Regions from separate parts of the Homo sapiens genome. Here all the other regions are linked to region 4. The links come from fine-mapping of genetic effects on gene expression. A gene starts in region 4. Each other region holds a variant in brackets. All regions are shown on one strand. Distances are from middle to middle. Region 1 overlaps ATP1B3 (ATPase Na+/K+ transporting subunit beta 3). Region 2 overlaps TFDP2 (transcription factor Dp-2). Region 3 holds the start of LOC105374134 (a long non-coding RNA gene). Region 4 holds the start of ATP1B3 (ATPase Na+/K+ transporting subunit beta 3).

Region 1 (4,000 bases), 29 kb before region 4:
GACAGAGCGAGACTTCGTCTCAAAAAAAAAAAAAAGCATTAGATCTAGATTAATTCAACCTTGCACATAGGCTTTAAAACAATCCTAAAATTTTCTCTAGCCTTCAAACATTCCCATATTTAATATATCACACATGTACATATAATACATATTATATGTATATAATATACAACACATAAATACATATTATATATGTATTACATGTACATGTGATATATTAAATAAGGAAATGTTTAATATGTCCCATATGTAATATATATGTATTATATGTACATGTGTATGCATGTATATTTATTTAAACTAATGATACTTTAAGTACTAAAATAATCGACAAATAATTTTAAGAAACTCAGTTTAAAAACTGTGTACTTAAAAATATTTAACACATATGCTTATATATTTCATGCAATTATAAACAGAGTTCAGTGTTTTTGAATAGATCAGACTATGTTCAATGGTAAGTCACATCACTTAAATAGCAAGTAAAGAATAATCTTAGAATTAGTCTGAGGTAGAAAAAAACAGTGCTACAATGAGAGATGAAGGAAAAGTAGCATGGAACTAATCTCTGACACTTGCTCCAATACACTAAGAGTTTTAAAAGAGTTATTCAAGACATTTAGACTAAGATTAGCTGTAAACAAAAGAAATCATTAGAAAAAAATTGTTCTAGGAAAAAAAATGGTTGAGACAATTAGTTCAGTTTGGCTGGTGATATAGCTCAGAAGTCTATACAGTGAGCAAGGATCTAGATAAGGGCACTTCCATCTCAGCATTATTGGCATTTTGGGCTGAATAATTCTTTGTTGTGGGGGTTGCCCTATGCACTGTAGGATGTTTAGCAACATCCCTGGCCTCTATTCACAGTACCACCTCTCTAGCTGTAACAACCAAAAATATTTCCAGACGCTGCCATATGACTCAGTGGTTGAAAACCACTGCTCTAGAGAGAAACCTGCTAGACTCCCACCTTCCTGGCCCGATTCCCCACTCTCCTGCCCTCTAAATCCCACTCCTCTAGGACTGAACTTTCTTCTTTAGGTAGAACCTTCCCTTCTCTGTCATCTATAGCAGTTAGTTTACAGTCTTTGGAATTATACACACTGAAGTTCTGCACATTACTGTTTCTTACTTTTCTAATTATCAGCATCTGAGGACAAGGGTCATGTCCAGTCACCAAGGGAGAGCTGGCATTCAAAGACTGTTTAGGCCAGGTGTGGTGGCTCACCCCTGTAATCCCAGCACTTTGGGAGGCCGAGGCGGGTGGATCGCCTGAGGTCAGGAGTTCGAGACCAGCCTGGCCAACGTGGTGAAACCCCGTCTCTACTAAAAATACAAAAAATTAGCTGGGCGTGGTGACACATGCTTGTAATCCCAGCTCCTTGGGAGGCTGAGGCAGGAGAATCGCTTGAACCCGGGAGGCAGAGGTTGCAGTGAGCCGAGATCACACCATTGCACTCCAGCCTAGGCAACAGGAGCAAAGCCCTGTCTCAAAAAAAAAAAAAAAAAAAAAAAGACTGTTTAAAAAGAATAAAATCAGGAGGTAGAAAATGTGGTTTAGATGTTTCAGTTTTTTACTGCATACATTCTCCTGTATAATGAAT[T/A]TTTTTTCCAGAAGAAAATCAAGAAGAATTAAACATATGAAGAGTATATTCATTTTGTTCTCTATGAGGTATCATTATTTAACAACTTACCAATTTCATAACTAACCATTTAGAACGACAAAGTATGTATTTTATAAGTCCAAAGCTCTAACTGAAGCTAGTGCCAAAATATATACCTTAATTACTCAAGGCAAAGTAAAACTGCTCTACGATACTCATAAGTCACTCATAACTATAACTATATTCTTCAAACGTGGCTTTTACTAGAATTCTCAATATTCATTTGCTTACTTCTGACAAAAAAAAAAAGAAACCGAAACAAACAAAACAAACCCACTCAAACTCTCAAGATTTATCAGTATATAAATGTGAAGGTCTTTAAATCAGTATGTAAATATTAAACAACAACAACAAAAATTAAAACCTTCACATTACTCAGCTCCAAGGTTTAGCTATCTTCTATCTGCTATATAAAACAGATTTATGGTGAAGATAAACTATAACTCAATTTTGTTAAAAGCCGTAACCACTGCCAGGCACAGTGGCTCACGCCTGTAATCCCAGCACTTTGGGAGGCCAAGGCGGGGCAGATCACCTGAGGTCGGGAGTTCGAGACCAGCCTGACCAACATGGAAAAACCCTGTCTCTACTAAAAATACAAAATTAGCCGGGCGTGGTGGCGCATGCCTGTAATCCCAGCTACTTAGCAGGCTGAGGAGGCAGGAGAATCGCTTGAACCTGGGAGGCAGAGGTTGCAGTGACCCAAGATCATGCCACTGCATTCCAGCCTGGGCAACAAGAGTGAAACTCTGTCTCAAAAAAAAAACAAAAAACAAAAAACAAAGTCATAACTGCAAGATAATTACCTGGGCTAGGAATCTGGTCACGGTATTTTGGAACCTCATCGTTGAGAGTCTGAAGCATAACCCACATCGTGAATGAGAAGAGTGCAGCCAGGAACCCATAAAAAACTAGGTAGAAGAGCAAGATCAAACCTGTAAAAGAAAATAAAACTTATGAAATGTGCACGTGCGTGTGTGTGTGTATGCATGTTTGGCCAGGTTAAAAAACAAACCAACTGTTCTTGCAAGGGTACGATCCCAAGCTTTGCCATGCACATAGCCAAATATCCTCATATTCAGGACACATAAATTTGCCCAAGCAAGGGGTATTTCAGCAGACAGCACCCACCCATCCCATGACCCCTCCTTTTCCCTGGTATTTCCAAGTTAAAGCAGCTTCCACCATTCATACTCTGGTTCAAAATCAAAGCTTTAAAATTCCAGTACATAGGGGAATGTTTCCCAAAATGAACTTGATGCCCTCTAAAAAGATACAAGATGGTTTTAGGTAAACAAAACCCCCAATATTTACATGATCCTTTAAGTGGCGAATATAAAAGAATTAGTACATGAAACGCATATTTCACAGACAGTAATTATTTGCTTAAATTTAAGTTTTAAAAAGTGAGTTAATGGCTCCCACCTGTAATGCCAGCACTTTGAGAGGCTGAGATGGGAGGATCGCCTGAGCCCAGGAGTTGGGACTAGCCCAGGAAACACTTTGTCTTTACAAAAAAATTAGGTGCTCACTTTGGCAGCACATATACTAACAGTGGAACGATACAGAGAAGATTAGCATGGCCCTTGTGCAAGGATGACATGCAAATTTGTGAGTCGTTCCATATTTAAAAAATTAAAAAAATATATATTTTAAAAACTGAGTTCATTGAAAGAATATCAGGAAATGTGCAGATAAGGCCAACTTATGAAGACAGCACTCAATGAATAAAGTTTAGGACACACTGGTCAAATGGCAGGGCTCGTGCAAAAGTGAAAAAAGGACAAGGTCAGAAACAAGCCCTCTGATCAATGGAATTTCATAGCTCTACTGCTAAGCACAAAGCAAGATTTGGGAGACACACGTTTCAACATTAAGGGCTTAATCTCTTTCCTTTCACAATTTGGGAACACTAAGATAGATCTATCCTGAACCAGTGATTTACTTTGGGAACACTTAAAATCAATTATTTTTCTCAAATGTCTATATTCAAAGTTCTAACATCAGAAGTGGCTGCCAACAAGTATATTAGAATACATTGGTAAAGTCACTTGTATTTCAAGGTTTAAAAACTGATCAAAGATTCATTTCTGTAATAATATATTTCTGAATATATTTTCCCCCCAGGGAGTGGCTCCACAACTTTCTTCTGATTCTCAAAAGATCCCATGACCCCAAAACAGATTGTGCTGAAAGCTAGATAACTTTTATTTCTCAACTGCAAGGCAGGAATCACCCCCAACCCCCTTTTTCAAGTAAAGGGGAAATAGTTAAAGCAATTTCATTTTATAATTTAGACTAGCATTCTACCCCTCCCCCCCAATTACCAGGTGGCC
Region 2 (7,962 bases), 69 kb before region 4:
AATATCTATCAAGCTCCCTCCCCTAACAAAATGGGCTGTCCCTGCCCAACAAGTCTGAAATAGACCTTAAAACTGTGCTGCCTTAGTGGTAAGTAAGGGGTGGGGGTTGGACAGTGAATCTTAAGATTTCATCCTTCATTCAGTAAGCATTTGAGTACCTACTGTGAGCAGGCATTGGGGCGGAGCAGCGAGAGCCCTGCCGATGTTGGGTTCTCCTCCTATTGGGGAAACTTGATCACAGATGGAACACGTGCAGATTGATTGATGAGTGCTGTGGAGAAAGCAGCAGCGTAGCGGGACCGTTTGGGAAAGGCTACTTTGGCTGGGGGTGGCTGGGAAAGGCCCCTCTGGGAAAGAGACAGTTTTACTGAGTCAGATGGTGGAAAGACAGATGTCTCTATACTTTCTTAACAAGCCACTCTGTCCCATAACATGCACTTGGAATCTCTCCTAAGTTCCAGAGGCCCCACTGTTCCAGTTTCAAGCCTTCATTTTGGAGTCTGTTTGGGAACTTTTAAGACTTCAAAGCAAAGTTAGCTACCAGCAATTTCTGTAAACCAAGAGAAGATTGTCACAAAGATTCACTACTTTCCAACTGAATCTATGCAGTAGAAAAATCATTAGAAAATACAAAAATTAGCCGGGCGTGGTGGCACATGCCTGTAGTCCCAGCTACTCGGGAGGCTGAGGCAGGAGAATCACTTGAACCCAGGAGGCGGAGGTTGCAGTGAGCCAAGATCCCGCCACTGCACTCCAGCCCAGGTGACAGAGCAGGACTCTGTCTCAAAAAAAGAAAAAAGAAAGAAAGAAAAATGATTAGAAATTGAGAACTATTTTACGTGTTTCTAAGTTGTTGGCTACATCAAAGAGATCATCTGTATTCTGCATATGGGCTGGCTTTGGTGAAGCTGATGACTGGACTTCTAAGAACCGTTTTCCCAAATGGGTTCCCATATTCATGCACCCAAAGCAATGGTCCCCAAGCACTGATGAAAACTAATATGCATTTCCCAAAGACCCACACTATGTATCAGGAGCCTGCACCATGCCATTTGAATGACCCTCAGCAATGTGCCTCCCTGCCCTCAAATTCCCAGTTGATAACAGTGTTTGATTAAATTTCCACTCAAGCCAAACATGGTTACTAAGAAGAGAAAAACCTGATGTTTGCATAATATTTTTTTTCCCCTCGAGATGGAGTCTTGCTCTGTTGCCCAGGCTGGAGTGCAGTGGCATGATCTCAGCCACTGCAACCTCTGCCTCCCGGGTTCAAGCGATTCTTCTGCCTCAGCCTCCCAAGTAGTTGGGATTACAGACATGTGCCACCACGCCTGGCTAATTTTTGTATTTTTAGTAGAGACAGGGTTTCACCATGTTGACCACACTGGTCTTGAACTTCTAACCATGTGATCTGCCTGCCTCGGCCTCCCAAAGTGCTGGGATTACAGGCTTGAGCCACCACGCCCAGCCTAAGATTTTATGATTAAAAAAAATTCAAGCTCAATACCCACATAAATTATAACGTTTCTCAGGAAGTAGTCCCTTAACCAAAACGTCTCTGAGAAGTGATGCTTAGGTAATCTCTGGGATCCGATTTTCCCACATGTCTCACTCCACAGTATGCTAAAGAAGAAAAAGTGAGTGGGCACAACACTTTGACCCTCTGGCTAAGCCCTGGGAGTCCCTGACAGGTCCAGAAACTTCTCTGACACCCATTCACCAGGGTGCTGAGATAGGAGAAAGTGCTCATTTATAATGTGTATTCTGTGCAGCTGTTCTCAGACAAGACCGGATCTTGTCATCTTACCTTTTGCTTTACAAAAAAGGCCTGTTGAAGTCAATGCTGTCTTGCCCCTTGCTGTTTCAGCAGGTTAGACTTTGGTCTTCACTGCTTATAGCTGCATTGGAGGCCAACGTAGCTGATGCTCAGGGTCAGGCCTCGCCCCTTCGCCGCAGGTCTCAGGATCGGGGATAACATCGCTCCCACCCTGCTCATTTAGAGATGGGAAACAAGCAAGAGCTTGACTTGCCTCCCATCCCTCAGCCTGTCTGTGGCAGAGCCTGCACCAAAACCCAGAGCTTCTTCCCTCCGTGAGGGCCACGCTGTCACCACAGTCCTCCCAGATGGGTTTTGGATTAGCATCAGTCCTGTGTCACCAAGTGCCAAACAGCTGAGGGGTAGAAGTGGGACTCCTTTCCCGAGCCCCAGCATGAGGCTGTGGTGTCAGGTTTAGGCCTCTCTCAAGTCAGAAAACCCCGGGCTGAGACCTCCACAGACAAGGGCTCCCCATGCTGGCCATTGGCAGGGGCCCAAGAAGTTCAGTGACCAACTGGTCCTTCCACACCACACCAGCTGGTGCTGCCCATGTCTGTCGAATCATAACGGAAAATTCCCCAGATCACGTTTGGATTTAAAAACTCATCCCTTGTCGTGCTTCAATGCATGCCATTTGTCACTTACCATACTTCACCATGGCCGAGCTTCATGTCACATGGCCTGGCGATTGTGCTTGTTCACACTGGGGCCAGGATTTTCATACTAAAACGTCACTGACAATGGGGCTACTTTTCTCCTGAATAGCTCCTCTGGGCTTGTTGCAGTTCTAGTTTTCCCAGTAGTTCCATGGCAGGTTCAACCTCTCAGTGTCCTGAAAAATGGAACCACCCACTAACCATATGCACTGGCTGCCCAGGTGGCTGCACTCCGGGGATCACGTTTCAGTACTGAGTTCCTTCACGCACTTGGTTCACCACCATCACTCTTGAGTTTTGGACAAAAGAGGTGGGTATGCCAGGCACAGTGGCTCACGCCTGTGATCCCAGCACTTTGGGAGGCCGAGGCGGGCGGATCACCTGAGGTCGGGAGTTCGAAACCAGCCTGACCAACATGGAGAAACCCTGTCTCTACTAAAAATATAAAATTAGCCGGGTGTGGTGGCGCATGCCTGTAATCCCAGCTACTCGGGAGGCTGAGGCAGGAGAATCTCTTGAACCCAGGAGGCAAAAGTTGCAATGAGCTGAGATCGTGCCATTTGCACTCCAGCCTGGGCAACAAGAGCGAAATTCCATCTCAAAAAAAAAAGGTGGGTAAAGGGCCATGAGCCCAAACCACTAGGTTGTTCACCTTTTCATCTGAAAATGCTTTACTCTGACTATGTGCTATTGGGTTTTATTTCCAGAAAATATAGTTCTCCTTTTTTCTGCATGAAGGATACATCGTGGTGCCACATGCTTTAAGCAATTTAAACAAGAGAGATAAGAGGAAAATGCAACCACCACATCTGACTTGCCCAATGTAGACTTTCCTTTATTAGATTGAAGTACACAACCTAATATGATATATTATTTTGTAGTATCTCAGACTTTGTAAATAAATGCCATTATTTTTATATGGAAATTTTATAGAAGAGCTATTTCTGTATACGTAATTACTCCTGATTTTCTGAAATTGCTTCTGGTAGATAACAGACAAGTCCTAAGCAGTGTTCCACTAAGGGTGGTTCCAGGCCTGCCTGCCGTGGAGTTGACTGGGGGAATTTTACAGTTTTGCGATCCTAGGATGCGTCCCAGACGCTCAGTCAGAAGTGCTGGAGGTGGGGCCTGGGAAGCTGTATTTGTAATGAACTCTGGTGTTTTTTGTCCATTAAAGTGTATCTTTGTCCATCCTATAAGATTAAAGGAAAGAAAAAGCATCTCAAATGAGTGTAAGTTGTTCTTGAGAAAAAAATGTATCAGACTTTTATGATTTGAATGAAATGTATTATAGAAAAAAATAAACACTTTAAAATAATGTTAGTCTCATTACTAGTGGGTCAGGATATTTTTAGTTAAAAAAGGAGGTGTTAGGCCATGCGCAGTGGCTCACGCCTATAACCCCAGCACTTTGGGAGGCCAAGGTGGTCGTATCATTTGAGGTCAGGAGTTCAAGACTAGCCTGGCCAACATGGTGAGATCCCGTCACCACTAAAACTACAAAAATGAGCTGGGTGTGGTGGCATGCGCCTGTAATCCCAGCAACTTGGCGCAGGAGAATCGCTTGAACCTGGGAGGCGGAAGTTGCAGTGAGCTGAGATCACACCACTGCAGTCCAGCCTGGGCAACAGAGTGAGACTCCATCTCAAAAAAAAAAAAAAA[AG/G]CCTTTTTTTTGTTTTTGTTTGTGAGATGGAGTCTCTGTTGCCCAGGCTAGAGTGCAGTGGTGCAATCTTGGCTCACTGCAACCCCCACCTCCCAGATTCAAGGGATTCTCCTGCCTCAGCCTCTGGAGTACCTGGGATTACAGGCACGTGCCACCACACCCGGCTTATTTTTGTATTTTTTTTTTTTTTTTTTGAGACGGAGTCTCGCTCTGTCACCCAGGCTGGAGTGCAGTGGCGCAGTCTCGGCTCACTGCAAGCTCCGCCTCCCGGGTTCACGCCATTCTCCTGCCTCAGCCTCTCCGAGTAGCTGGGACTACAGGCGCCCGCCACCACGCCCGGCTAATTTTTTTTTATTTTTAGTAGAGACGGGGTTTCACCGTGGTCTCGATCTCCTGACCTCGTGATCCACCCGCCTCGGCCTCCCAAAGTGCTGGGATTACAAGCGTGCAGCACCGCGCCCGGCCTATTTTTGTATTTTTAATAGAGATGGTGTTTCACCATGTTGACCAGGATGGTCTCCAACTCCTAGCATCAAGTGATCCTCCCACCTCAGCCTCCCAAACTGCTGGGATTAAAATAAAAAAGAACAATAGGCCGGGTGCAATGGCTCATACCTATAATCCCAGCACTTTGGGAGGCTGAGGTGGTCGGATCACTTGAGGCCCGGAGTTCGAGCCCAGCTTGGCCAACATGGTGAAACCCAGTCTCTACTAAAAATACAAAAAATTAGCCAGGTGTGGTGGCGGTCGCCTGTAATCCCAGCTACTCGGGAGGCTGAGGCAGGAGAATTGCTTGAACTCAGGAGGCAGAGGCTACAGTGAGCCAAGATCGCGCCATCGCACTCCAGCCTGGGCAACAAGAGCGAAACTCCATCTCAAAAAAAAAGAAAAATGAACAATAAAATAATGGTGGGCTGTTCGGGTGAGGGTAGTGGGTACTCTGGGGCTCTGCCAGAGAGTAAGGACTGAGACCCTCTTTCAACATCTGAGTTCCTCTTCATGAATTGCCCTCAGAAGGGTGGCCAGGGCCGGGCGCGGTGGCTCACACCTGTAATCCCAACACTGGGAGGCCGAGGTGGGCGGATCACAAGGTCAGGAGATCGAGACCATCCTGGCTAACATGGTGAAACCCTGTTTCCACTAAAAATACAAAAAATAGGCCAGGCGCAGTGGCTCACGCCTGTAATCCCAGCACTTTGGGAGGCCGAGGCGGGCGGATCACGAGGTCAGGAGATCAAGACCATCCTGGCTAACACGGTGAAACCCCGTCTCTACTAAAAATACAAAAAAATTAGCCAGGTGTGGTGACGGGCGCCTGTAGTCCCAGCTACTTGGGAGGCTGAGGCAGGAGAATGGTGTGAACCTGGGAGGTGGAGATTGCCCCACTGCACTCCAGCCTGGGTGACAGAGCGAGACTCCGTCTCAAAAAAAAAAAAAAAAAATTAGCCGGGCATGGTGGCGGGCTCCTGTGGTCCCAGCTACTCGGGAGGCTGAGGCAGGAGAATGGCATGAACCCAGGAGGCGGAGCTTGCAGCTAGCCGAGATAGTGCCACTGCACTCCAGCCTGGGTGACAGAGCAAGACTCTGTCTGAAAAAAAAAAAAAAGAAGAAGGGTGGCCAGGTGCCGTGGCTTACCCCTGTAATCTTAGCACTTTGGGAGGCTAGGCCCAGAATTGCTTCCCTGCAATTCGTAGGGAAGATGCTTTCTTATCATCTCTTACACCAAACCAGCATCAGCGAGAACAGCGACAGCAGTCAATATAGAATGCCATGTCCCCAGGCCTCAGGTGGAATGTCACCTGACCTCCGGAACATAGCAGCCCCTCAGCACCTGATCACGCAGTCTCTACCTGTCTCAGGGAGAGGCCGGAACCCTAGATAGCTTATCTCCTATGTTCCAACAAGTTGAGCACGTGGACAATCAGAAGGCACAGAAGGGTGTGGAGCAGTTCAGGGGCCAGCAAGTAGACCCAGGTCTTGAAAAGGAGATGGCTAAGTAAGCACTCGATGACATATTGGAAGGAATGCATCTTCCCATAAAGACTCCCCCTGGAGTTTCACAGACCAAATAAGGGTGGCGGTGGTGGGGAAGTGGTGAGCCTGTGCTCAAGCCCCTTACCCCAGGGGTCTCCTGGAGTAGTGAGCCAAGCTGGTATTGTGCCTTCTCCGTTCCTCCCGGCCTAGAGGAGCCACTTACTAGTGCCGTTTGGTGAAGGTGTCCAAGGACTCATGGGAGTAACCACTGTATCTCTTGGGCTTAAGAAGGTGCTTTTGTTCTTGTAGCCACATGGGGGATGGCACAGCGACTGAATACACCGCTGACCAGGGGCGATACCTGCAAGCCCACAGAATTGTCTACGAAGAGACAAACTATTTTCAAAAATATTTAAAGAGATTTATTCCGAGCCAAATATGAGTGACCATGGCCCCTGACACAGCCCTCAGGAGGTCCAAGAACATGTGTGCAAGGTGGTCAGGGTGCAGCTTGGTTTTATACATTTTAGGGAGACATGAGACTTCAATCAAGTATGTTTAAAAAATACGTTGGTTCGGTCCAGAAAGGTGGGACAACTCGAAGGTGGGGGGCGCTTCCGGCTTATAGGTAGATTTACAAATTTTCTTGTTGACAATTGGTTGAGTTTATCTAAAAACCTGGAATCAATAGAAAGGAAATGTCTGGGTTAAGATAAGGGATTATGGAGAGAAAAGGTCGCAGGCTTCAGAGAATAGATGGTAAATGATTCTTATCAGTAAGGTCTGTGTTGATGTTAATGCCAGCGGGTATAATGAGGCACTTCCCGTTCCTGGCCGGAACCGGTCTCTGAGGTTACATTTTAAGAGCGCCCTGGCCAAGGAGAAAGTCCATTCAGATGGTTGGGGGGTGGGACTTAGAACTGTATTTTTGGTTGACGGAGTTAATTCCATGCCCAGCTTCTTGAGCCTCAGAGAGAAGACAGCTTCAACCCAGAGCCTTTTCCAGAAGAAAGAACCCGACTGGCAGTCAGCTTGCTTGCTTCTGTTCCTACTCCCAGAGCTATGGCTATGTTTTCTCCATTCCTTTTTTTTTGAGACAGAGTCTTGCTCTATTGCCCAGGCAGGAGGTGCAATGGCACCATCTTGGCTCACTGCAACCTCCACCTCCTGAGTTCAAGTGATTCTCTTGCCTCAGCCTCTCGAGTAGCTCGGACTACAGTCACATACCACCACGCCTGGATAATATTTTGTATTTTTAGTAGAGACGGGTTTTCACCATGTTGGTCAGGCTGGTCTCAAACTCCTGACCTTAAGTAATCCACCCACCTCAGCCTCTCAAAGTGCTGGGATTACAGGCGTGAGCTACCGCGTGCGGCCTCCATTCCTTCTCCTACGGGAGCTGCTTCTGTATTTCTGTGCATCTTCTCAGAGTGCTGGCACTTCTCACTGAAGCTTGCACCTGACGACACCGCCAGCTTCCCCAGTTTCTTGCCAGATGAAGGCTCCATCTGCCGGTCTTACTGTGGACGGCTGCCAAATGCCCGGGGGCTCCCTGATCACTGCCAGCTCAGCCTTCTCTCTGAGAGGCCTTTCCAGCCTCTTGCTGAAACTTGCTTTCAGGAGAGCATCTCAGTGGAAAATGCACAGTGGTGAAGGAAGTCCTGTAGTTGGGGAGGGTGTGGGTGGTGGGGGCACAACCAATCCGGTTAGTGTAGAGCAGCATTTGTCATATCCACTTTCTCACTTTCATCCAAATTGCTTCAGGACATTTTTGCCACTGGGGCACAGTGATTCATCCAACCATTTCCTTATTGCCTTCTTATCTCCCGCCTTGGCTAAGGGGCCTAAAGTAC
Region 3 (7,962 bases), 19 kb after region 4:
TAGTCTGCTCTTGGTAAACTCTCCATCTTTCACATTATGTGGGGTTTATCTCCTCCTTGAACTCTTGGTAGAACCTTGCCTTATGGACCATGTGGACTTGTTTTCTTTTTTGAAGGTAGATCTTTGACTATTTCTTATATTACTATTGATAAGTTCAGGCTTTCTGTTCCTTGAGTCAATTTTGGTAATTTATATTTCTTTAGAAAGCCATTCTCCATGGTCTGGATTTTCAAATTCATTGGAATAAAGCTGCACATAGCACTTAAAAAATTTGAAATCTCTGCATTCTGTTTTCCTCTCTGATGTTATAGTGTCTTTTTTCTTTCTTTCTTTCTTTCTTTGTTTTTTTTCCTAGTTCATACTTGCCAAAGGCTTTCTATGTTTTGAGCTTGTTAAAACATCAAATTATTGTGTTGGGTTTTCTATTTCATATTATCTGTTTTATCTTTATTAATTCCTTCCTTCTACCTTCTCTGGTTTATTTGTTATTTTCTAGTTTCTAGAGTTGAAAGCTAAGTTCACTCATTTTCAATCTTTCTTGCTTTTTAACATCTGGATTTAACATTATAATTTTCTTCCTGATAAACAATTTTGTTATTTCTCAGTGTTTGAGATGCTTTGTCCTCCTTGTCACTGACTTCTAAATAATCCTACTGCCCAACCCTGTGGGAAAATTACCCCCACTGATACAAGACTTTACCATGTGACTTACTTTAGCCAATAAAACGTAAGTGGAAGTGCAGCCCACAATCTGAATCACAGTGTGATTCCATCATCTTTCTTTTCTTTCTACCAGAAGACCAGCAGTGTCCCACACAGGGCTGTTTCTTCAGCCTGCACACCAGACTGCAGATAACAAGGAGAGTGACAGCTGACCTGGGATGGTGATGGAGCGAGGGAGAAATAAATCTCTTGTAATCTCCTGATACAGTCTTAAATTCTCCAGTATGCATTTCTAAAGAGTTAAATGTCTTCCTATATAGCCAAAATAACATTTTCACATCTAACAAAATTAACATTTATTTCTTTTTTTATTTTTTTTGAGACGGAGTCTTGCTCTGTTGCTCAGGCTGGAGTGCAGTGGCACGATCTCAGCTCACTGCAACCTCTGCCTCCAGGGTTCAAGCGATTCTCTTGTCTCAGCCTCTCAAGTAGCTGGGACTACAGGCTTGTGCCACCATGCCCGGCTAATTTTTTGTATTTTTAGTAGAGATGGGGTTTCACCGTGTTAGCCAGGATGGTCTCAATCTCCTGACCTTGTGATTCCTCCATCTTGGCCTCCCAAAGTGCTGGGATTACAGGCGCGAGCCACCATGCCCGGCCCAATTTCTTAATATTATCTAATACTTAATACATACTCAAATTTCTTCATTTGGCTTCCAAATGTCCTTTATAGCTGGTTTGTACAGATCATGAACTAACCCAGAACCTCATATTCTATTTAATTATTATTATTATTATTTAACTGTCTTATTACACTGATTTTTTTAAGAGACCAGGCCTCCATCATATAGTTATGTTTTTCATCTCCTATGACCAGAAAGTGACCCAAGTGGTATAACTTTGGTACAGCATCAGTAACCAGTTTCCCATTCTTAGAGCTTTAAGGTCAACTGATAATCCTTGCCTGAATTGATAATTTCCTTAGGTACTACAAATGATTCTTTCAGTGTAAAGTAACGGTATAAATGTAAATGTAACCTATAAATGTATAAATGTAGAGTTTTCCCCTGTCATCTGGGATTATTTTGGTTTCTGCAGTAGAGTTGCTACTGCAAAGGCAGGATAAATGCCTACTTCTCCCTCGTTATCCACTTTCAAAGTAAACAGTTGTTTCAAATGGTGACACACAAGCTTTCTCTTACTGTTATAGACTTTGGATTTTTGGAGATTTGATGTGTTTCAATCAACTACAATCATTTTTCTTTTTTGATGTTCAAAGTCTTTCTTACGATATCCCTAATGATTTTTTTTTTCTTTTTTAGCTGGAGTGCAGTTGCGCGATCTCGGCTCACTGCAACCTCCAACTCCCTGGTTCAAGCAATTCTCTCGCCTCAGCCTCCCGAATAGCTGGGATTACAGGCACGTGCCACCATGCCCAGCTAATTTTTGTATTTTTAGTAGAAGGGTTTTACCAGATTGGCCAGGATGGTCTCAACTTCCTGACCTCGTGATCTGCCCACCTCGGCCTCCCAAAGTGCTGGGATTACAGGTGTGAGCCACCGTGTCCGTTCCCCAATGAAATTATTAATCCTAGTAGAATTCTTCACATGGGGAAACAAAAGCACAGGAACCAAAGTCACTGGACTCAGTAAGTCCCTAGAAATGATTAAAAGGGGAGAAAACATAAGACAGATAGGCAGGATGACAGCCACAGTCTGCCTGAGAGCGGCACAGTACATCACTGTGTACAACAGAAATCTGATTTGTCCCTTCTTGTAGCAATCCAAAGAACAGGGGGCCACAGGCAATGTTAGCTCTTAGAAAGAATCACCCCAAAATCATCATTGTTCACTTAAACAGCCAAACTGCTTCACCAGCTCATGCCCCTTCAAGCCAACACACTGTGTAGGTCAGATAAAGAACTAGTTGCACACCTTCAGTGATTAACAATCTATTTGGTGCCAGGCTGTGGTGGCACACACCTGTAGTTCCAGCTACTCAGGAGGCTGAGGCAGGAGAATCACTTCAGCTCAGAGGAGTTTGAGACCAGTCTGGGCAACACAATGAGACATTGTCTCTAAAAAATAAAAATAACCCATTTGGGAATAGTCATTGAGTTAACAAATATTTACTGTTAAGATGATGGGACAATAGGGCTAGGAATGATGGCTTATGCCTGTAATCCCAGCACCAAAGAGGCCAAGGCGGGTGGATCTTTTGAGCTCAGAAATTCGAGACCAGGCCGGACACGGTGGCTTATGCCTGTAATCCCAGCACTTTGGGAGGCTGAGGCAGGCTGATCACTTGAGGTCAGGAGTTTGAGACCAGCCTGGCCAACATGGTGAAACCCCATCTCTACTAAAAATACAAAAATTAGCCGAGCGTGGTGGCACGTGCCTGTAGTCCCAGCTACCCCAAAGGCTGAGGCAGGAGAATCGCTTGAACCCTGGAGGCAGAGGTTACAGTGAGCCGAGATTGCACTGTTGTGCCCTGGCCTGGGCAACAGAATGAGATTCCGTCTCAAAAAAAAAAAAAAAGGGTTGGGCGCAGTGGCTCATGCCTGTAATCTCAGCACTTTGGGAGGCCGAGGCAGGTGGATAACCTGAAGTCGGGGGTTCGAGACCAGCCTGACCAACATGGAGAAACCCCGTCTCTACTAAAAATACAAAAATTAGCTGGGCATGGTGGCACATGCCTGTAATCCCAGCTACTCGGGAAGCTGAGGCAGGAGAAGTGCTTGAACCCGGGAGGTGGAGGTTGTGGTGAGCTGAAATCAGGCCATTGCACTCCACCCTGAGCAACAAGAGTGAAACTCCATCTCAAAAAAAAAAAAAAGAGAGAGAAAAGAAAAGAAATTCGAGACCAGCCTGGCCAACATGGTGAAACCCCATCTCTACAAAAAATACAAAAATTAGCCGGGTGTGGTGGCATGTGCCTGTGGTCCCAGCTACTTGGTAGCCTGAGGTGGGAGCATCACTTGCGTCCAGGAGATGGAGGTTGCAGTGGGCCAAGATTGGGCCACTGC[A/T]CTCCAGCCTGGGTGACAGAGTGAGATCTTGTCTAAAAAAAAAGAAAAAAAAAAAAGATAATTTGACAATAAATATTAACTATCAAGCGATCAGCACTACTGAGACTCTAAAGAGGAAGGAAGCCCTTCTAGCTGTAGAGGTCTTGGGAGTTACATTGAAAGAGATGGGGTTGGAGTAAGGCCTTGAGGACTGGGTGGTAATTTATTATATGAAGATGGGGTTGGGAGGGTGGTACCCAGCCCATGGGATAGGGAGCACTAGCAGGAGAGGACAGAGTTTTATATAGGATTATAGGAATATAAACTTCGGTGTTTTATGGCCAGGTTATATATGCCTTTGAATTCCTGGCTAAACATTTAGATGGGATGTTGTAAGTAATAGAGAACTACTGTAGGTGTTTTCAGTATAAGGCGGAGGGAATGATGGCTAGGCTCTTGAATTTAAGTTGTAAGGATCAGGCTCAGAAATCCACTCCCCTCTTCTAAGTTATTGATAACTAATACAGAAGAATCATTGAGAAAATCTAAAGTGAAAAAAAACCACCTACAGGGCAGTTTGCTTGCATTTGCGTTAGATGTGCACGTCTAAAATTTTACACACAGAATATATCTGGAAGAACACAGGAGCCACTGGTGGCTATGGCTGCCTCCCAGTGGAGAAACTAGGTGCCATTTACTCCAAATCACTGGTTACAGTGATTCTGTGACAAAATTAGCTAGATGAGGAAGCAGTATTTAATTTCATTTTGGTTTGGTTTAGTTTTTAATTACAAGAGAGGATGGGTGTTGTACAAGAGCATAGGATGTGACATCAGAGGGTCCTTATGACCCAGCCTCTGCTGCCTTTCTATGACTATGTGTGACTATGTGACCTTAGGAGAGACACCATCCTCTAAGACTCAACTCCCTCATCTGTAAAACAAGGACAAGAAAACATCCTTTACAGGGGTTTGATGAGAACCTACGTGAAGATGATATAAAGCACCATGTGGACCAGGCACAGTGGCTCACGCCTGTAATCCCAACACTTTGGGAGGCTGAGGCGGGCAGATCATTTGAGGTCAAGAGATCGAGACCAGCCTGGCCAGCATGGTGAAACCACATCTCTACTAAAAATACAAAAATTAGCCGGGTGTAGTGGTGGGTGCCTATAATCCTAGCTACTGAGGCAGGAGAATTGCTTGAACCTGGGAGGTGGAGGTTGCAGTGAGCCGAGATCATGCCATTGCACTCCAGCCTGGGCAACAAGAGTGAAACTCCGTAAAAAAAAAAAAAAAAAAAAAAAAAAAAGGCAGCATGTAAGTGAAACTTTGAAAACAATTTTTTATTTTTATTTTCATAGAGACAGCGTCTCACTATGTTGCCCAGGCTGGTCTCAAACTCCTGGGCTCAAGTGATCCTCCTCCTCAGTCTCCCAAAGTGCTGGGATTATAGATGCAAGCCACTGTGCCCTGCAGAAACTTTTAAAAAATGATTACATCAAAAATGTTTCATGTTCTGAAAATGCCTTGAGCGCTGTAGATTCAGTTCCAATTTTTAAATACGGACATGCAGCGCCGGTGAGGTTAACAGGCAGACCTGGCAGGTGCAGCCACTGCTCAGCAGAGTTCCTCGGCAGGCCAGGCGTGGATGGAAACTCCAAATTTCCATCACAAGGCATCAGATTTCCCCTCTCTAAGACCAAGTAACTAAGCAATTTTTACAAATTATGCACAGGATGAAGCTTTCTGAGAGGCTGGGGTGTGCTGGTTTTATCCAGCCATGGCGAACAGAAGAATCACCTGCCTCCTTCCCCAGCCCGACCCTTTGCCCAGCATCAGGCCCCTGGCACAGTCATATTTCAGAGGAAGGTCTGGTGAGCTCTTGAGTTTCTGGTGTGAGGTTTGAGAGGGATTTGTGGAGTGTCACTTCTGGAAAGCAAACCGTAATACAGAGCACTAACTTAATTGTTATTCCTAGGGTTTTCTGCGTAGACATCTTACCACAGACAGCGTTAACAGAAGCAGTTGATTCTCAGGGCACTGTTCTGGAAATGGTGTAAAAGAATGGATCATTCCTCATTTTGCCATTCATAGACAAGTCTCTATTAGGCAATAGAAAAAGTCTGTGCAATTGTATCAACTGTAATCTGGAAAGTAGCCACACCCTCCTTCCAGAACTTCCCTCTTCACACACAAAGCTTTTTCCTTTTGAAAATGAAATTTGTATTCTATTTATAGGAAGAAATGTGTGTTTCTTTCTCAAACTATTATCTAAGATTACATCAGTTTCACATTACATCCAAGCTGACCACTTTCTTCTGAGTGGCAACATAAATTTACATGGACCCAGTGAATTTTGCCAGTGCATCATGTCCTAGAATAAGGGCAAAGCTAATAAATTGCTTCATTTATCCAAGAGCAACGCCAGATTGAAGGCACACACAAAGGAAAATTAATACGCGAAGGAAGAAGACAGAAACAAAGGAGAAGCCAGGCACAGTGACTCACGCCTGTAATCCAAGCACTTTGGGAGGCTGAGGTGGGTCGATGATTTGAGGTCAGGAGTTCAAGACCAGCGTGGCCAACATGGTGAAACCCCGTCTCTACTAAAAATACAAAAAATTAGGGCCGGGTGCGGTGGCACATGCCTGTAATCCTAGCACTTTGGGAGGCCAAGGCGGGCGGGTCACAAGGTCAGGAGATGGAGAATACCCTGGCCAACACCGTGAAATCCCGTCTCTACTAAAAATACAAAAAAAAATTAGCCGGGCGTGGTGGCGGGCACCTGTAGTCCCAGCTACTTGGGAGGCTGAGGCAGGAGAATGGCATGAACCCGGGAGGCAGAGCTTGCAGTGAGCCGAGATAGTGCCACTGCACTCCAGCCTGGGCAACAGAGCAAGACTCCATCTAAACAAACAAACAAAAAAATTAGGCGGGCGTGGTGGTACGTGCCTGTAATCTCAGCTACTTGGGGAGCTGAGGCAGGAGAATTGCTTGAACCTGGAAGGTGGAGGTTGCAGTGAGCTGAGATTGCACCACTGCACTCCAGCCTGGATGACAGAGTGAGACTCTGTCTCAAAACAAAAAACAACAACAACAAACAACAACAACAACAACAAAAAACAAAGGAGAAACCAGCGTGCTTTTAGTACAATGTCAGGAAATTATTTAACATAGCCATTTCGACATGCTAAATATTTTGCAGGTAGAGACGGTCCCTGACAATGGTTCACCTTTAAGATGGCATGAAAGTGATATACGTTCAGTAGAAAGCAGTATGATACTCTTTTGACAAGCTGGGCCAGTCCCTGTCAGCCACACCATAAACTGTGTTGCTCAGCTGCAGGTAATGTAAGAATGTTGATTGCGTTTAAGGTAGGCTAGGCTAAGTTACAATGTTCTGCATGTTAGGTGTATTAAGTGCATTTTCGACTTATGATATTTTCACCTTACCATGAGTTTATTGGAACGTAACCCCATCATAAGTTGAGGAGCATCTGTATTTCAGTATTTAATACAACAACCTTATGAGATAAGTGTTATTCTTATCCCTATTTTAAACCAAGGAAACCTCAAACAGAATGGTTAAATAACTTGGTTAAGGTCATGCACTAAAACCTATTCTCCATAAGGACACTTCTTCCCCAGACACCCTTTCAAATGGGGCCTTTCTTCTCTCCCCTACTCATCTTGGACCACTGGCCTGGAGGTGAAGGAGGTATACTCATTTCTCCCAACTGCTGCTTCAAGACCACCATTCCTCTCTTCTTCAAAGCTTTCAGCTTTGAAGCTGTCATCTGAATATTTACTAAATATTCAGCTTTGTTGAATCAACTGTAGACTCGGGTCACTGCTCTGAATTCCTTGAAGAGTTCCATTCCCTGTCACTTCAGATTCTTGGTGACTTCACAAACAGTCTTTCCAAATGCCCCGCCTGCCAGTGCCTTGACCACCTCACCTCCAACAATGTTGTCATTCTACCCTGGACCTGTGCCGGAGGCCAGCTCATTGCTCACCAAATCTGTTTCCTCTCCTTTCCGGGCAGGCTACATATGCACTTCTCCTTTGTAACAATGGCTTCATGACTGAGTTCTGGACAAAGGGATTTGCAGTCCTCTGCTTGCTCTCTCATTATTTGCTAGCCAGATGGAGAGGATGCAATGGAGTGTTATAAGGCCCTGGAACAGCGCAGTCCAGTAGAAATGGAAGCCAAGTCACATATGTGATTTTAAATTTTCAAGTAGCTATATTTAAAAATGCAAAAAGAAACAGGTATGGCTGGGCACGGTGGCT
Region 4 (7,340 bases):
GGTAGCCTATCAAAATTAATCTCTCTCCACCACTCAAAAATTTCTTCAGCAAAAAGTTAGTACACTCTAGAAACAAGCAATTAAGCTTTATAAATGTTCATCTTTTGTTCCCATGTAAGTCTGGATGCAAGATTTATTTCTTCATCACACTAGTGGGTTCCCAAAAGAAAACAGCAATTTAAATAAAAATCATGAGTGATTACCATGCAGTTAGGCAAGGCATCTGTAAAATAATACAACCGCTGGACTAGGATTAAAGGAGAACTGGGTTCTTTTCTTGGCTTTGTGGCATATGTAATTTTACACAAGGCAAAAATCACAACCTCTCTGGGTCTCATTTTTCTCATCTCTAAAGTGGGGGTTGGGCTAAAAATCCTCCAAGGCCCCTTTCAGCTTGTGATAAGACTTCAAGTCGCCTTTTCACCCTGAAGGAGTCCATTTCAGTCTGCACCAACAGTTTATTTTCTGAGTCACAGCTTATTTCTCCATGCTTATCCTAAAAATGTTGTGCCCAAATAGTTCTAAGCTCTCGAGATTTATTCCCACTCAGAAAGAAATGGTCTTTCAAGACCCACTAACAAAATGTTTCAAAAGGATTTAAAAAGGTAAAATTAGTTTACTTAAGTATAAAGGCAAAAAAAAAAAAAAGCTCTAGCCTGCATTCAGAGATTGATACAATTTTAGGAAAAAAAGGCATCCTAAAGCTACTCTACACGGTAGATGGTTTAAATATATTAAAACAAAGAGCTCACGCATAGAAAAAATCTGCTAACATACAACCATCACTCTCCTGTTTTGAAGACACGGGAAAAAAAAAAAAAACCTGTGTTGTTCAGACAGGATTTACTTTCCCCAAAGAAGCAAATTTGTAAGGAAGAAAACCTCTGTAATTAAAAAGGAATCCGGGAGGAACCAACCTTTTTAAGGGCCTTTTCACTGTCCAAATTCAAGTGCATTTTCTTGTACAATGTACTTCTGTGATTAACTCACCGCTACACGTTTAAGCAACCCACACCCACACTTAACACTCAGTCGCACTCTTCCGACCGGTCGGGGTGGCAGCGTGGACGAGTCACAAGATAGCGGCGGGAGTGGAAATTTCCTCTCCCCTGGAGTGGGGCAGGGTCTGGCTTCTCCGAACCGCTCAGCGGGCCGGGCGCCTCCGCCAGGGCCTCTCGGGCCGGAGCGCTCCGTACAAAGGAGGCCCGGGGGCTCGGCTCCTGCACTCTCGGGGCCCGGCTTCGGGCAGGGGTCCCCGGCTTCCGGCGCCGCGCCGGGCGGGAGGCCCGGGCAGCACGTGCGCCCCGCTCCCAGCAGGGAGGGAGGAACCAGCGCGGCCCGGCCGGGCTGCCCGCGGGCCCCGCTGCTTCGGGAGCGAGCTGCGGCCAGTCCGGCCGGCCCGGGGAGCAATGAATGGGGCCGCACTGCGCCGCCGCCGCCCGGGTTAGGGTCGGGCGGTCGGGAGCCCCGGCGCTGGGAGCCGCCTCCCGCCTTTCCGTTCCCACCAGACCGCGCCCGGCGCCCCCGGGACCGAGGCCGGCCCCGGACGCCCAGCTGCTGCCCGCTCACCCCAGCTCTTGGCGGTGCGCCCCAGGAATTCTCCGGTGGTCGGGTTGTAGATGAAGAGCTTCCACTCGGCCAGGCTCTGGTTGAGGGACTTCTTCTCGTTCTTCGTCATGGTGTGCGCGCGGACGGCGAGAGGAGCTGCGGCCGCGGGGATGGAGGCGGCGAGGGCTGCGGAGGCGCGTCCCGGCTCCGGCGGCGCAGCCCGGAGACGGCAGTGAAGGGTGGGACGGCCGAGAACACCTCCTCGTTACGGGGAGTACTCGAGCCGACTGCGCCGCGCCGCGCCGGGCGGCCGCTTGGGCCGCGGGAGCCTGACGTCTCCGCCCGCCGCAGCCAATCCCCGCGCCGCTCGGCCCGCGCCGCTGCCGCCTCCCGCCAGCGGCCGGGGCGCTGCCTGAGGCGGCGAGGGCGCCCCACCCCGCCCCGGCCCCGCCCCGCAGTAGCCTCGGGGGCTCCCTCAGCCTGGGTCAGAGGAAGCGAGAAGAAAGTCTAAAAATCCGAAGGTTTAGTCGCACGCACGTTTATAATAATAGCAAAAGGCGGGCGTCCCCGCGCCGCAGGTTGCTTAGGAGGAGGACTGGGTTTCCTGGGCGTTCCTGGGCGCCGGGGCGCTGAGAAGATGCTACCCGCGGCGGGCGGGTGCGGAGAGCACGAAAACGACTCCAGTCGGCCCGCGGCTTCCTCTCTGAGGGAACTTAATCGTCCCCTCCCCGAACTGCCTCCCCGACCGTCCCCAGGCGTTCTCTGGGCTCTGTGACGTTCCTACAGGACGCTCTCTGGGCTCTGTGACGTTCCTACAGGACGCTCTCTGGGCTCTGTGACGTTCCTACAGGACGCTCTCTGGGCTCTGTGACGTTCCTACAGGACGCTCTGCGGGGGATCGCGCGGGGCTCCCACAATGTACACGGTGCACTGCTGTTCTGAGAACGTCCTCGCTTGGCTCCCTTGAAGGGTTCAACCGGGAGCCTCGGGTCAATGGGAATTCCGTTCTAAATATGCCAGTGAATGGAGTATAATTTTTCTCGGGATTCAGTTGAATTTATCAATGAAATCTAAATACGTGCTTTCCCAAGGGTCCTGGCAACTGAAAGCTCCCAGCTTTTGCCCAGACGCTCCTACTCTTAACCCACAGGAAAGGAACACTCGTTGGAGGGTCCACGCCTGTGTAGTGTCGCCGGCTTTTCATCTCCCCTGTAGAGATCGCGGCCCTTGGGCGGAGCTGAGGGTGCCGGTAGCGTTTTCCTCCGCGAGATGGAGCTGACGAGTACGGGAGGGGGGGTGCCCTCAGACTCAGCGACAGGATAAAAGACTTTATAGGAATTTGCACAGAAGGTGCGGGGTGGGGGAGGTTGTTGTTGTTGTTGTTTATTTATTTATTTTTAGAAAAAAGCTCTGCCTCCGTTTTATTAGCAAATAAAAATTATGGAGAAATGTAATAGCCATCTTATTGTTTGGAGTGATGAATTATAATCTGTCTGGAAGTTTAAACAGCCTGCAAATGGATGAATTTTCCTTTTTCCTCACTTTTCTTACCAAAGCAAGAAATAATGAATTATACCTCCCACAAATGGAAAAGTGGTAAAATATATTCCTATAAAGTGCTTTTTTCACGCTTAAAAAAGCTAAATTTATAATTATGACATTGAAAATAACCAAAATCCATTTACGTTTTGAGCTAATGACACCAAAAGATTTGTAGAAGCATGTTGGAGAGTTTGGCATGAAATGAGTATTAGAAATAGCAAAGCACCATGCAAGCAGACTGGAATGCACTTCTTTAAATCATAGGCAAGATTGAAAGAACTAAAGAATGTTACCTGCCGGGCGCGGTGGCTCACGCCTATAATCCCAGCACTTTGGGAGGCCGAGGCAGGCGGATCAGGAGGTCAGGATCGAGACCATCCTGGCTAACGCGGTGAAACCCCGTCTCTACTAAAAATACAAAAAAATTAGCCGGGCGTGGTAGCGGGCGCCTGTAGTCCCGGCTGCTCGGGAGGCTGAGGCAGGAGAATGGGGTGAACCCAGGAAGCGGAGCTTGCAGTGAGCCGAGATCCCGCCACTGTACTCCAGCCTGGGCGACAGAGCAAGACTCCGTCTCAAAAAAAAAAAAAAAAAAAAAAAAAAAAAAAAAAAAGAATGGAAGTAGTTAACTATTTTCAACTCATTACAAATATAACTACAGGTTAGAGGAAACCTAAAATACTGGTAGAGTTGATAACAGGCTTTTTCATTTAGGTAAGAAAGAAAGATATTTAGAATGAAACAAAACCTGTCCGCTTCATTTACATTGTGTGTGTGCATGTATGTGTGTGTGCGCTAATAATAAGCGTGCTTTGATAACTAATCACCTGGCACACAAAGAAAACGTGGTAAACAAGAATATTATGAAATAGTGTTTCAAAGATATTGGCTGCTGTCAAGGATTTGTAGTTTGTGTATGTGTGTGTGTATATATATATATATATATATATATATTTTTTTTTTTTTTTTTTTTTTTTTTTTTTTTTGAGATGGAGTCTTGCTCTTGTCGCCCAGGTTGGAGTACAGTGGCTCGGATCTTGGCTCACTGCAACCTCTGCCTCCCGGGTTCAAGCAATTCTCCTGCTTCACCCTTCCAAGTAGCTGGGATTACAGACGCACGCCACCACGCCCAGCTAATTTTTTTATTTTTCAGTAGAGATGGGGTTTCACCATGTTGGCCAGGCTGGTCTCGAACTCCTGACCTCAGGTGATCCGCCCGCCTCAGCCTTCCAAAGTGATGGGATTACAGGCATGAGCCACCACGCCCAGCCTGTTAGTTTGTATATGTTTAATGGTCATTAATATGACTTTCATATTTAGTGCTTTGTGGTTTTCCAAATAAGGATTTAAATACAAATATATAATTCAGTAAGCAGTTTTGAAACACATGACTAGTTCAGTATAGTAACTAGGTCCAACAGATTTCAGTTTGGTGAAATTTTTACATTCTACTCCAAAACATGGAAGCTATTTGTTTCTCTGATATATGGTAACTTGAGCATTACCTGGAAGAGAAAATCCTGTGTGTACTGGGAACCACTGGTCTACCAAGTATGAGCAGATAACATTTAATTACAGTTACATTCTCTGTCAGTTTATTTTACTCTAAGTTTCTCCTTTGAAGGAGAAGTTACTTCGCTAGAGAAAATACAGAATGCCTACCTAAATTTAAGTCCAGATGGATGATGGATTTTTTTTGGTATACATTCCATGCAATATCTGGGACATAGCTACTCCCCCAAAATTATTCTTGTCTGTCTGAAATTCAAATTTAACTAGAAATCTTGTTTTTGTTTTTGTTTTTTTGGAGACGGAATTTGATCTTGTCGTCCAGGCTAGAGTGCAATGGCGCAATCTCGGCTCACTGCAACCCCTGCCTCCTGGGTTCAAGCGATTCTCCTGCCTCAGCCTCCCAAGTAGCTGGGATTACAAGCATGTGCCACCTCACCTGGCTAATTTTTGTGTTATTAGTAGAGACAAGGTTTCACCATGTTGTCCAGGCTGGTCTCGAACTCCTGACCTTAGGTGATCCACCCGCCTCGGCCTCCCAAAGTGCTGGGATTACAGACATGAGCCACTGCACCCAGCCTATCTTGTATTTTTATTTGCTAAATCTGACAGCCCTACCTGTAGAGGATACTTAGGAATTCCACAGTAATAATAATGATCTCTTATAAATAATTAAGTAAGTCCCAGGCCCTGTACTACTTGCGTAGTGTGATTTATTTCTCAGTCTTTACAAATACCCTAATGGGGAGGTACTGTTTCCCTAATTTTGTAAATGAGGGAATTACATTTACAAAATCGTAATTAAGTTTGTAATTAATTCTCTAATTACAGTTACTGAAATTAGAGAAATTAACTCATCCATGGTTAAGAAGCTAGCTAATGACAGCACCTGGATTCAAATACCCACCTCTCCTCCACCACCCAATACCATTAATACCTCTACAGTAGGCCGGGCGAGGTGGCTCAAGCCTGTAATTACAGCACTTTGGGAGGCCGAGGAGGGCGGATCACGAGGTCAGGAGTTCAAGACCAGCCTGGCCAACATGATGAAACCCCGTCTCCACTAAAAATACAAAAATTAGCTGGGCACAGTGGCGGGCGCCTGTAATCCCAGCTACTCGGGAGTTTGAGGCAGGAGAATTGCCTGAACCACGAGGTGGAGGTTGCAGTGAGCCTAGATCATGCCACTGCACTCCAGCCTGGGTGATAGAGCAAGACTCTGTCTCAAAAAAAAGGCAGAATGTTGAGTTACTGAAGCTGGGTGTGTGAAAAAAAAGAAGAAACTTTTTTTTTGAGACAGGGTCTTGCCCTGTTTCCCAGGCTGGAGTGCAGTGGTGCAATCATAGCTCACTGTAGCCTCCACCTCCTGTACTCAAGTGATCCTCCTCCCTCAGCCTCCTGAGTAGCTAGGACTACAGGCATGCCACCACACCTGACTTATTATTATTAATATTATTATCATTATTTGAGATGGAGTCTCGCCTTGTTGTCCAGGCTGGAGAGCAGTGGTGCAATCTCGGCTCCCCACAACCTCCACCTCCCAGGTTCAATTGGTCAATTGATTCTCCTGCTGCAGCCTCCTGAGTAGCTGGGACTACAAGTGCGTGCCACCATGCCCAGCTAATTTTTGTATTTTTAGTAGAGACAGGGTTTCACTCTATTGGCCAGGCTGGTCTCGAACTCCTTCGAACTCCTGACCTCATGGTCCACCCACCTTGGCCTCCCAAAGTGCTAGGATTACAGGCGTGAGCCACCGGGCCCGGCTACATCTGGCTAATTTTTATTTTATTTTTGTAGAGATGGGAATCTCACTATGTTGCCCAGGCTGGTCTTGAACTTCTGGCTTCACTTCAAGCGATAGTTTTGAGTTGACCTCCCTAAATATGGAATTACAGATGTGAGCCACTGTGCCTGGCCAAAAAGAAGTTTTTTATGTGAGGAAGACTAGCCCCTTTAAATTATCAGGCCCAGAGAGGCATTGAAATTAAACACATGGAATGAAACTCTTCCTTGAACTAAATCATTATCTCTTGAAGCCACTTCATTTCTGTAAACCAATGCATTCCTGATGAACAACTTTTGCAATTGTCCCTTTCTCCTGATTCATCCTTTTTTCTTTAAAAACTTGAGCCTCTCCTTTGTTCCCTGAAGCACTCGCCAAGACAACCTGGAAATGTGTCCTGGGCTGCACTTCTCAACCTTGGCCTAAATAAACTCTCTACATTAATTTTGCCTAAGCTTCTTCCTTTTAGGTCAACAGGTGATGGGTACATGAGGTTCATTATACTATATTTGCTTTGTATATGCTTGGAATTTTTCATAATATAATGCTTTTAAAAATTGGAGAAGATGTGAAAAAGAAATTGGGGACAAAGGATGGCCAATTTTCCTGATACACATTTTTGTGGTTCTTTTATTTGAAAAACAACCAAAAGAAGGTATAAATTTGGCTGGGCGTAGTGGTGCATGCCTGTAATCCCAGCTACTTGAGAGACTGAAGCACAAGAATCACTTGAACCCAGGAGGCAGAGGTTGCAGTGAGCTGAGAGTGAGACTCGGTCTCAAAAATAAAAAGAAGGTATAAATTTAACACTTTTAAAAGGAGATATTTTAAAAAGCTGACCTCATAGGAAACAGATAATTCTGGGGACATAAGAGAATTTTTCTTGTATTCTAAATAGTGACCACAGCAAAATCTAAGCTACTTTATCCATAAGATAAGTTGATTATATACATGTAATCAA

Evidence for each region. PIP is the estimated chance that this variant, and not a neighbour inherited with it, causes the effect.
Region 1: its variant is the best candidate, but not a certain one, in a credible set for the expression of ATP1B3 in blood mononuclear cells (TOPMed, PIP 0.64).
Region 2: its variant is the best candidate, but not a certain one, in a credible set for the expression of ATP1B3 in whole blood (INTERVAL, PIP 0.85).
Region 3: its variant is the best candidate, but not a certain one, in a credible set for the expression of ATP1B3 in whole blood (TOPMed, PIP 0.57).

What each region holds. Positions count from the first base shown.
Region 1 is chr3:141,902,219-141,906,218 of GRCh38, reverse strand. It overlaps ATP1B3 (ATPase Na+/K+ transporting subunit beta 3), which reads right to left. Exons shown (of 7, transcript NM_001679.4): 2 at 2,471-2,599. It also overlaps the pseudogene RNU6-509P. Among named protein-coding and RNA genes, the nearest start is that of ATP1B3, 28 kb to the right of the region's middle. RefSeq lists enhancers at 794-1,294, 1,295-1,795. The variant T/A (reference allele first, on the strand shown) is at 1,605.
Region 2 is chr3:141,940,256-141,948,217 of GRCh38, reverse strand. TFDP2 (transcription factor Dp-2) reads left to right here. Exons shown (of 13, transcript NM_001178139.2): 13 at 1-3,790. Among named protein-coding and RNA genes, the nearest start is that of ATP1B3, 68 kb to the right of the region's middle. The variant AG/G (reference allele first, on the strand shown) is at 4,135.
Region 3 is chr3:141,851,331-141,859,292 of GRCh38, reverse strand. It overlaps LOC105374134 (a long non-coding RNA gene), which reads right to left and starts at 7,744. Exons shown (of 3, transcript XR_924551.3): 1 at 7,628-7,744; 2 at 713-876. The variant A/T (reference allele first, on the strand shown) is at 3,689.
Region 4 is chr3:141,871,140-141,878,479 of GRCh38, reverse strand. It overlaps ATP1B3 (ATPase Na+/K+ transporting subunit beta 3), which reads right to left and starts at 1,837. Exons shown (of 7, transcript NM_001679.4): 1 at 1,570-1,837. The coding sequence starts at 1,678. RefSeq lists silencers at 1,043-1,612, 1,883-2,012, 2,883-2,942.